Linked DNA regions of Homo sapiens: region 2 is linked to region 1. A link means that fine-mapping ties the variant in region 1 to the expression of a gene that starts in the linked region. Tissue or cell type: testis. Region 1 holds a variant in brackets; the other region holds the start of a gene. All regions are shown on one strand. Distances are between the middles of the regions. Region 1 holds the start of C3orf52 (chromosome 3 open reading frame 52). Region 2 holds the start of TBILA (TGF-beta induced lncRNA).

Region 1 (5,383 bases):
GATGAATCAGAAAAGAGCTTGGCCTAAAAATAGCCAGGGACTTCCTTAGGGATTGAGAGGAGGTAAAAGCAAGGTGGGCGAAGTCTCAACCTTCGAGACAAGAACTTTGAAATTATTTTCTTTCAATTGAGCAGGGCAAGTTCACCTCCCCCGCGCCGACCCCCTAACCCGCCCGCCCCATCTCTACGCCAGCCCTACCCCTTCTCCCCTTCTGACCGCTTTCTCTCCTCTGTGCTCTCCCCTATCTCTCTTCCGGCAGAATCCAATGGCCAGGCTGGGAGAAGGCAGAAAGTGCTTGGCGGATGGTAGGCATGGAAGAAGGCTGGGGGCTGCGGCGAGGTGGGTGGAGGGGAGGGAGAGAAGTGGCAAGGCAGTGAAGGTAAGAGGAGGACAGAAGAGATTCTGAGAGAAGGAGGATACTCAATTTGTCATTCTCATTCTCCCTACTGGAAAAAAGAAAAACTGAATTAAAAGTTACATAACTTTAAAAAACTACTTCCATCTCCGGAATACCTCTCTGAAGACAGCAGCGGCCACACCTCACCACTAGGATTCCTAAAGCGCCTCGGGGGTCAGAGGGGTTGGAGGACCCCAGGGGCTGGGGAGGGGACTGCTCGGGCCGAAAGGTGTCGCGGTGACTCGGCTCCATTCAGAGCACTCGAGCGCGCCCCACCCTCGCTCGGCGCCGTCGACGCCCCGCCTGACTGGAAACCCGAAACTCGCGGGTGCCAGGCCCGGGTCCTACTACTGTCCCGCCGCCGGCAAGTTAGGGCCAGCGCCAAGGGGACCTTACCTCGGCCGGGGGGACCTCCTCGTCCAAAGAAGGGAAGACCTTGTCGGCACCATTGAGAGGCGTGTTCTCTTCTGGCTGCCGCTCGAGCACCGAGAGCTCCAGCTCGTCTACTGGCTGTGAGGGTTGGGCCAGGTCCATGTGCCGGCAGGGAAAGTCTGAGCGGCTCCGCGGGAGGCCACAGCGCCGGCGAGTCGAGCGACCTCCCCGCCTCACACTCCACCCACTGGGCGGGGCGTCGCGGACCTCGGGCGGCGGGAGCGGACCGGAGCGGACAGGAGGGGCAACTGTGAGTGGCGGCCACTCCCTGGATCCCGCGGGGTAGAGCACCTGAGGCCGTGCCGGAGTGGGCTCCAGAGCCGAAGGCTGTTTTTCTGATTTGTTCAGGGCGCTGCCTGCTATGCCTTTCCCCGCGCCTGCAGATGCAGACCATCTCCGTTTAGGGGCTGCCTGGGTGCCGGGCTGTGGTAAGGAAAGGGTGGGCCCGGCAGCACCGTCCAACGGAGAAAAGTTTGCGATCTAACCCTACGAACTGTTGGTTGTTGGGGTTTGCCACAGTCCTCGCGGCCTAGCAAAAGTGCATTCATTCAATCAACAAATAACCATGCCTCGTGCCAGCATGGTGCTAGGTTCTGAGTGCATGAAGGTGAATAATATACACCAACACACTTCCTCGCAAGTCCAGAGTCAGGCACAGAGACAGTATTGTGTGGTGCTGGGGACAGCGGACTCTAAAACCAGTGTACCTGGGTTATTCTCCACCCAGAGGGTTCCTCACTGTGAGACCTCGGTCTTCATCTCTCTGTGCCAACGTCCTCATCTGGAAAGTTGGTGTAATATTTGTACCCTCCTAAATGTAGTTGTTACCAGGATTACAAGGGTTGTTGTAAGCAAAGCACTCAGAACAGTGATTGACACAGCAAGCACTCATAAATGACCATTATTATTTATCTTTGAGAGGAGGGGCCTTACACACACACACACACACACACACACACAATGCACGCGCACACACAATCTCCTTGACACCCTATCTGTAGTTCAGAACTTCCGGTTTAGTTAGCATGGAATTATGTTTGTTAAGCACAGCATGGGTTGGGCCAAGGGCCTCAACTCTCAAGCTTCTGTTCCGAATAGTCTTGCTCCTTACTTCTCACCCTCCACGCAACACACACACACACACACACACACACACACACATTAAGACCAGACCATTAACAAGAAGCATATAAATCAGCTCCACTCCAAATATGTTGACTTGAGTCCAAAAGTCTGGCATCTTCAGTACCTGATGTTGAGACACAGCCTAGATATCCTGTCTCCAGCAGTCTGATGCCTGCTACCAGATCCCCTGAACTTTGGATCCATCTGCCTGCTAAGGGGAGTCTGCAGTGACTCATCTGCTGACCTGCACTGACTTCTGCTCCAACAGGTGGATCTTGCAAGAATCAGGCTGCATTCTCAGCTGGGATTTTTGAACAGGTTTTTTAACCAAGGAGCAAGGGTTAAGGGAATCAACAAGGCATGGTGACGTACCCAGGGACTAGCAATAGCGAGAAGCTGTTAACACTCCTAGGCCTAAAAGGGACTGGAGACTGATAAAGAACTAGAGCCA[T/C]TGAAGGGTGTGGGAATTTGCAGGGAGGTCTTGATAGGATCTGTAGTCACGAAAACATGCAGACCTGACTGGAAGCACTGACACCTCTCAAACTTCTGATTCTCCCCACCCCCATCCTTACCCAGGGTCCAGAAAACTTTTCTCATAGTTCCCTTATTTGATTGCAGAAGTTCATCCTAAATGTGAGATTTTTTTCTCACTTCAGATGGATAGTAGCTATCTCCATGCCTGATTTCTCCATGCACAGATACCTAAAGCCTCCCTCACTCCCCCAGAGAATCAAAAAGCAACTGTTCCTGTCTCAAGCACACCCTAAACCACATCTTCTAATGCCTTTTGAGTACTGTTAAGCAAGGTTTATATACTCTGTAATTAGATTTAAATGCATTTCTATAATTCCATATGCCTAACCCTTGTTCTCATGTTACAGTGGAAGGAATATAAGTTCTGAAGGCAGACAGAACTAGGATCAAATTTAGACTCTCACTATCTGTGTGTTCTTGGGCAAGCTGTTCAATGTCTGCTTGTTTTCTTATAAAATGATTCCTACCTAGCAGAGTCAGGAAGATTAAGGTAAAGAATTTATTCCTGTGCCTGAAAAATGAAAGGATCTCAGTAAATGCTCCATTACATTCCCTGACTGTGTCTTTGTGGCTAATACCCACTCTCCCCCGACCCTTAGCACCCAGCACTAACCCTTGATTCAATATGTTTTCTTTTGATATTGGTTTTTCTTCCTGTGCTGTCCTATTTTCCTGATCACTGACACTTGCTGACACCTCCCATATTACCTGAACTAAATTCTTATTTGCAACCTGTTCCTGTTCCTGTTAACTGCAAATTTCTTAATCTCCAGACAGCTGACCTAGAATGCAGATGAGAGTCCCAACCCTACCTGAAGACTTTCTTCATCCTGCCAGTTTCACTCCACACTAAGGATTCAGAATAAGTTAGGAAGAGGTGTTTCTCCCTAGAGGTACAACCAAGTTTAGATTAAACGAGTCTGATGAAAGTCAAGAATTTGTGAATGAGGAACCAAACTCTACCTAGATTTGTTTTTGTAATTCCTTCAGAATTCATTTACATAAGGGTGGCTTTTTAAATATACTATTATTTCAAAAATAGATTTCTTTAATATAATTTAAAATTATTATTGACTCAATTGCTTTAGTTTGTTTGAAGTGTCTAATTTAAGTAACATTAAAAAATTAAAACATACTTATATTTGCTGACCAATATAAGATTTTTGATGTTGCTTTTTTTTAATAGTACTTGCTCTTCTTTTTAAATCCTTTTTAGAAGCAAATAATTTTCTAAATGGTTATCATATAAACTGAAAAACAAAGTAACATCATCAGAGTGATATCACCAATACACCAAAGGCATCTCATTCCCTTCAAATAGGTCTGTGACTCTGGAATACGCAACAGTTTGTTCCTGTGTGTTGTCAGATGGCAAGCAATACTACTCCGAACGTCAGCAACTGGGTCAGCCACTCAAGCTAATCAAGTAGAAAACAATTGAGAAATGGTTGCTTGTGGTGCTTCACTGTGCTATTTTCAAGGCACTGTGAAAGAAGGCATGAGTCCCTACAAGTTCTCCCTGATAATATGGCACGTGAAATGCTTCTGTCTTAATTTATGAAGGCCATTTTGCTCTGCTAACAAAACCATTCTTGGGACTTGCCTTACTTCACACCTTTGCAAGAATGAAGTGGATATTCCCACATCATTCAGGTTCTAAATGCATCTTAACATGCAATATCCAAGCAAGTTATGTTTGTTTTTCAACCTTTTCCCTGCCCCAGCACTGCTACAGCATATCGTGTACTCACTTTAATACCAGTGAGGGCCTATAGAGGTAGTACATACATGTGCTTTCAAAAACTCCCTCTGATGAATCTGATGGATCATGCCAGCCCTCCTCCATCCCCTAACCGAGATCACAGACTTATGCAAAGGTTTTCATGTATTTTGTGAAGAGCAATTCTATGCCCTAGAAATGACCATAAAGTAAAAAGTACAACTCACCTTGTATATAGGTCACAGCCATCCAGACAAAATAATGTAGATTATAAGAACTATCAGCCTAATTCGCTCTTCTATCCAGTGGATTCAGTAGCAAAGTCCTCCCTTTTGAATTAGTGGTACACTTGGCCCTCTGAATTGCACTATCGTATAGCCAGTTTACTGAAACCTTTGGGGCCCATTCATAGAGGTATTATTAAGATGCTTTATCCTTAATCTGAGGGAACAGTCTTTTAACAAATCAAAGTATATTCTATGAACTGAAAAATTTATCTGGCCTGGGAGATGACACCTTTTGCTCTCTCTCCTTTTGCTGTTACATTAAGATTTTCTAAGGTTCTGTGCATTATTCTATTAATAGACACTACCTGATGTTAGTATTTTTATTACTTCTTTGACTTTATAACAGGAAAACAAATAATATCACTCTTTTTTCTGTTGTTTTCACTCATTTGGTGGTACTATCAATTCTGGCTTCTGTTAATGAAAAGAATATTCTGAGATCAAGTATGAAACCTTCTAAATCAAGATAAAATAAATCAAGAACTAAGATACATTGAGAGTGTGCTATAGGCTTACAACTATGTAAGGTATTATAAGAGTCTGAAAGTAAAAGAAAGTCTCATCCACTGGGGTTTTAAAAAGAACCAAAAGCCAGATGATAATATTTCTGAAAAATTTCACTTTTGCAACAATCATTCAAAAATTTCTTTGCCTTTTTTTTGCTGACCAGCATTACAACAATTTCTTTGAATCTCATATACATGCTTTCGATTCAATTACCATGATGCTTTATTCTGCCATTTAGTAATGGTTGCTGTCAGTTTTGTTGGTTGGTTGATTGGTTTCTCTGTACACAACATTACCATGTGCCATGGCTGAAGATGGTCCACTATGATATGTTTAGATAAAATTGGTTTGTAAAGCAACAATATAGGTACTTATTCTGTC
Region 2 (5,383 bases), 49 kb before region 1:
ATATTCTTTTTTACTTCAATGCTTCATTTAATTTATTGATGGGAGGGTTTTCCTGAATTTCAAATATTTACAGAATAAGAAAATTTACCACCCTAACATCTTTCCTAGAGTCAATTACATGAGGGATTCATGAAAAAAATTAATGGAGCTACTATTGGGGAAATAGAATTAAAAGCAAAATCTCCTGCTATTTCAGAAAACCTCACCACAAAAATAGAAGAGAAAGAAAACACTTTTATTTCTGAATATTCAACCAGAATGTAATGCACACCACAGGCAATCCCCTAAAGAGATTACTAAAACAGAAAGAAATCTTCCCCTTTTATATGCCAAGAAGATATCCTCCACTGCACACATTTTCTCAAGACAAACAATGACTAGTATTCACATAAGAGGACTTGACAGCACCATTTGTCACATAGCGTTTATCTGAAATTATTTTTGTAATATATTTGCTAATTGCCCTTAAAAACTAATTTCTCATTTCTTTTTGGTTGGAGGTAGATTTGCAATTTGGAGTCAGGTGTCAACTGAAGTTAGACTCCAGAAAATTGTATTCTGGAATACTTGAGCATGGAGACTGCACATGGACATTAGGGTGTGTGCTCTGAGATAAACGAAAGCTACAGTGAGAGAACATAACCAATCCCAAAGATAATTTCAAAGAACAATGACAGCAAAGGTTAGGTGGGAGTAGTATTTGACAATGCTTATTTGATATTGTCTCTCAGAGCTGCAAACTAGATTATACAAGTCATTAGCGTCAGATAGCTTTAAAGTTGTGACCTTCCTTTACATGAATTTTCTAGCCAGTTTCCTATCCTTTGCAAGAGGTAACAAAACATGAAACCCTAGAATGTGTGAGTTCAGGCATTAGGTATATAATAAGGAGGCTCTCTGTCCAGGGCTGCTTTCTGTCTTGCAGGGGCTAGTGAGTCTTGTGTGTTTTTATTTTATTCTCACATTTGTGTTTTTTTAGAAAAGTGAATGATCAATAATGGCTTATCTTTTATAATAAAATCTTCCATTTTTAATAAGGTGCTCCTGGAAATCCCTCACAGAGCCAAAAGGAAGTTTGGAGAGCAGCCATAAGGATAAGAATGATGTGAGATGAATCTGGGGTTGCACAGCTAGTACCCTAGTTTCTCTGAAATTGTTTCTTCTAAGCCCACTCCCCATCCTTCTCCTGCCTGTTTTAGATATGACCTTTACATTACTCAAGGACAAGCAATAAAATATTTTGCACTTTGTTTTATTTCTTTCAAGGAACTTCACAAGAGCAGTCCTGTATCTGCTTTTCTTACCATTGAACCTACAGTGCCCAGCACATAGTAGGCACTCGACACATACTTGTTAAAGGAATGAACAAACAGATGAGTGACCAAACTGGAAACAACCATCAAATACAAGGATAATACAAAAATCCATGATTCCTGTCCCGAGATTTCTTTCTTTTTTAACCTTTTGTCTGTTGAGATTCATTTATGTGCAGTGAAGTGCACCCTTATTAGTATACAGTTCTGTGAATTATGAGAAATGCATACAGTCATGTGGGCACTAACACAATCAAGATAAAGAACAACAACAAAAAATTTCCTCCTGTGCTTTGAAAGTCAACACCTCCCCCACCTTTTGCTCCTGGCAACACTAATATGTTTTCTGTTCCTGTGGTTTCACCTTATCTCTAATGTCACAGAAGGTAGGCTTTAAGTCTGGTCTCTTTCACTTAGTGTAATGCATTTGAGATTGATCCAAGTTATTGCATGTATTAATAGTCCACTCCTTTTCAATGATGGTCAGGATTCTGTTGTGTGGATGTAATATAACACAGAGCTTATTTAGCAATTCACTCAATGAAGATCAGTTGGGCTATTTCCAGGGTATTTCGGCTATTATGAGTAAAGCACATATAAAAATTTGTACACACAGTCTTAGAGGACATAAGTTTCACTTGGCTAAATGCCTAGGAGTGAAATTGCCAGGTTGTACAGTAACCCTATGTTCAATTTTATAAGAAATTGCCATACTTCTGAGATGGGAGAGTTCCCTTGACCCCTTCTCGGGACTTGCGACAGGGGTGTGGCCTACTTACTTGGCCACCACCATGCTCAAACTCTCTGTGGGAGCGGGAGCACGCAGGCAAGCGGGTGCCAGGGCTTCGATGAGCACTTTTGGGCTCCAGCCCAACAGCAGCATTTAGGGATGTGTTACAATTCATGCTCTTTTAGCAGTTGCCATCCGTGGACAGCTAAGTGTTAACCCACTCAATGGAGAGTCAGGGTGGCAGCCTTTTACACCCTGCCCTGTTGGTACCCAGGTTCTTGTTCAGCATCCAGGAAGAATCAGGTTGCATGAATGGTTTGAAAGTTGATGGATGTGGACGATTTTATTAAATGGTGGAAGTGGCTCTCAGTGGAAGGGGAGCTGCAAAGGGGATGGTGCAGGAAGAAAGTGACCTTTCCCTGAAGTCTGCTGTCTCTGGCCGGGCTCCTCCCTGAAGTCATGCCACCTGAAGTTAAGCCACATCTCTGACACTCAGTTGCTTCTTCTCCTCTTGATGTTCAGCCGCTTGTCTGTCTGCCAGCTGAGGTCTGGGGTTTATATGGGCACGGGATAGGGGGGCTGGACAGGCTAAAGAGTAACATTTGGGCAGGATAACAGGGATAACTGTTCTCATTTAGGGCTTCGGTTTCAAGGCTTGAGGGTGGGACCTTTGCCAGTGAACCACCCTCTTCTACCCAGTAAAGCCCTGCCTTCTGTCCTTATCACTTCTTTCCAAAAAGGCTGTCATTTTGCATTCTCATCAGCAATGCATGAGACTTCCAGTTGCTTTGCATACCTTGCCATACTTGATATTGTCAGGGTTTTATAGCCATTGTAATAAGTATGTAAAAGTGTTCCATTGTGGATTTGATTTACACTTCCCTAATAACTACAATGTTTAGCATCTTTTAATGTTCATCTGTATAGTTCCTTTGGTGAAATGTCTGTTCAAATATTTTGCCCATTTTGTTACTGGGTGTTTGTTTTCAGATTTGAGAGTTGTTGATACTATATTTTCTACAGGTCTGTGGCTTGACTGTTTTAACCTCCTTCTGACTTTTCTAAGAAGACAACGTGATTTATAAACGTAAATATCTGTAGTGGAAAAACTCCCATGGCCCATCTGTAATTTCAGACCTGGGATTCCCCAGAGGTTCGAAGCTCTCATTGACGGGTAGTTGCTGGTTATGGCCAACAGCCAGGTTGGTTCAGGCACTGACATGTTAGGACATTCTGCACATGCGTGCCTCTAACACTCCTCCCCCAGCCTCTTCCTTCCCTCTGCAGAGACACCCTTCTCCTTTCTGCTGTCTCTGCACGGGTGGCCAGAGCCACACAGCCCTTTCTTTAAGTCAGGAGTTGCCCTGTCAGAGCACAAGGCAAGAAGGAAGTGGTAAAGGGACGGAGGGGAAGCCCTGAGAGGACTGAGAGGATGGGAAATTCTCTGCTGAGAGAAAACAGGTAAGTCTAGACTCCCTGTGGGAGAGCAGAGGAGATGGGACAGGACAATACAGCAAGGAAGAGAAAAAGAAAGCTAGTATACAGTTAGCACACTAAGTTGGGGTAGAAAGTAGTTGGGTAAGGAAACTGCCAAGCCTTCAGTGCCTACTCTGTGCCAGATACCACATTAAATTTCCCATAGGTTTTGCCTTCTCCCAAGAATCATGGTGAGCAGCTGATGGAGAATAGCTGAAAGGTGGAAAGACTTTACCAAGGAAGGTCTATATAATAGGTTACCACCTAAGAAATGAAACAACTTTCTGAAAGCCCGGGAAGGAGATGCTCTCCTGAGCTCCTCATGCTCCACAAGGAGGTCAAAATCACCACCCTCTTTCAGCCACTATTTTAAGTTTGAAATAAACAGCAAGCTTCCTGCCACCTTGAGTCTTCCTTTGATGTGCACTCCCTGCAAGCAGGTAAGCAGAGGTCATCTAGATTAAATAGGCACAGAACTCAGATTTACTTTCTGGACCTCAGCCTCTTTATTTTAAGTAGAAATAATAATACAATATCTACCTTAGAGAGTTCTAGTGTGTATTGTGCTAGCATAGTGCCTGACATAAAGTAGGGTTCAAAATTAGAAGATATTTTCTGCTTTCTTTTTCTGACCATCATCTTCCTTAATATCAAAGCCGTGCCACCAAAATAGTGCCACCACAGACAAGGTAATCTCTAGGGTATAAAGTGGGGTGATCTAGAGAGAGTAAGCGAGCCAGAGGGGGTCTTCACAGGGTTATGTTTGGAATCCCTGGTCTCAGTTCATGCTACTGGAGAGTGGAACACAGGAAAAAATGGTAGCCCACTTTTGACCACTTGCCGAAAAGAGGATTGGTGGTCCTGTGGAATATCTCATGTCCCTTCCTAAGAATCATGTTGTCTGAGACTTCTCTACCCTGGGTTGTCACAGCCCCTTGTCAATCTTCTACTCTAGCATTGTTCTAACAATTATATAAATTACTATTTTTATTACTAGATATGAGATGCTCAAATGTAGTGATTGTTTCTTATTTATCTTTGAATTCCTGGTTCCTGGCATTGTTTCTGGCATATCACGTGCACTGAATAAGTGCAAAAAAACTTTAAAAAAATTTTTTTACTTTAAAATTTTGTTTTATGTAAGAAAAAAAACCTTTTTCCAAGGTGCACACATCTTATGCTATTTGGACTTCTTATGGTTTTTTATTTATTTTAAAGAAAATTCGATTTTAAATCTAGAAAGCTTTTTGGTTTCTGCCATTGCATTCATGCTTAAAATTCTTTGCTCTTCCTAAGATAAGACAAATCAACTCACATAAGTTTTGATTTTGTTATTTTACATTTGGCAACATATATTCAATATATGGTGTCAGATGTAAATTTTTTTCCAAATAGTTGATCAGTTTGCCCAACATCTTTATTTCTATGATGATTTAAAAGGTCTCCCTTGAACCAAGTGCAGTGGCATGCACCTGTAGTCCCAGCTACTCAGGAGGCTGAGGCAGGAGGATTGCTTGAGCCCAGGAGTTTGAGGGCAGCCTGAACAACATAGCAAGACCCAGTCTTAAAAATAAATTCATTAAAATAATTAAATAAAATGTTTCCGTTAACGTATTCAAAAGTCTTGTATATATTGGTATCTAATTTTCATTGTCACCCCAACACCCAGTTATCATCTAGTCAGCATACCCCCCCAACCGTGTCTCTCCAGATCAAATAAGCTAAGAAGTCAGGGAAATTTTGCACAGAATAGAATGGCACTCATCCCTTCATGAGAGGAGCTCAGTCTCAGAGGAAGAGACCTGCCAGCAGCAAACCCAGCTTTTCCCCCTTAGTGGCTGTGGATCCTCAGACCAGTTGCCTA

What was found.
Region 2: TBILA starts here. The variant in region 1 is fine-mapped to the expression of TBILA in testis (GTEx, PIP 0.94).

The regions. Positions count from the first base shown.
Region 1 is chr3:112,081,956-112,087,338 of GRCh38, reverse strand. It overlaps C3orf52 (chromosome 3 open reading frame 52), which reads right to left and starts at 950. Exons shown (of 6, transcript NM_024616.3): 1 at 794-950. The coding sequence starts at 931. RefSeq lists silencers at 1,036-1,085, 1,106-1,155, 1,206-1,255 and an enhancer at 772-1,288. The variant T/C (reference allele first, on the strand shown) is at 2,406.
Region 2 is chr3:112,131,213-112,136,595 of GRCh38, reverse strand. It overlaps TBILA (TGF-beta induced lncRNA), which reads right to left and starts at 3,173. Exons shown (of 1, transcript NR_157393.1): 1 at 1,237-3,173. It overlaps GCSAM (germinal center associated signaling and motility), which reads left to right and starts at 3,348. Exons shown (of 6, transcript NM_152785.5): 1 at 3,348-3,504. The coding sequence starts at 3,476. It also overlaps a transcript of C3orf52 not described here. RefSeq lists enhancers at 1-28, 3,023-3,202, 3,683-3,742.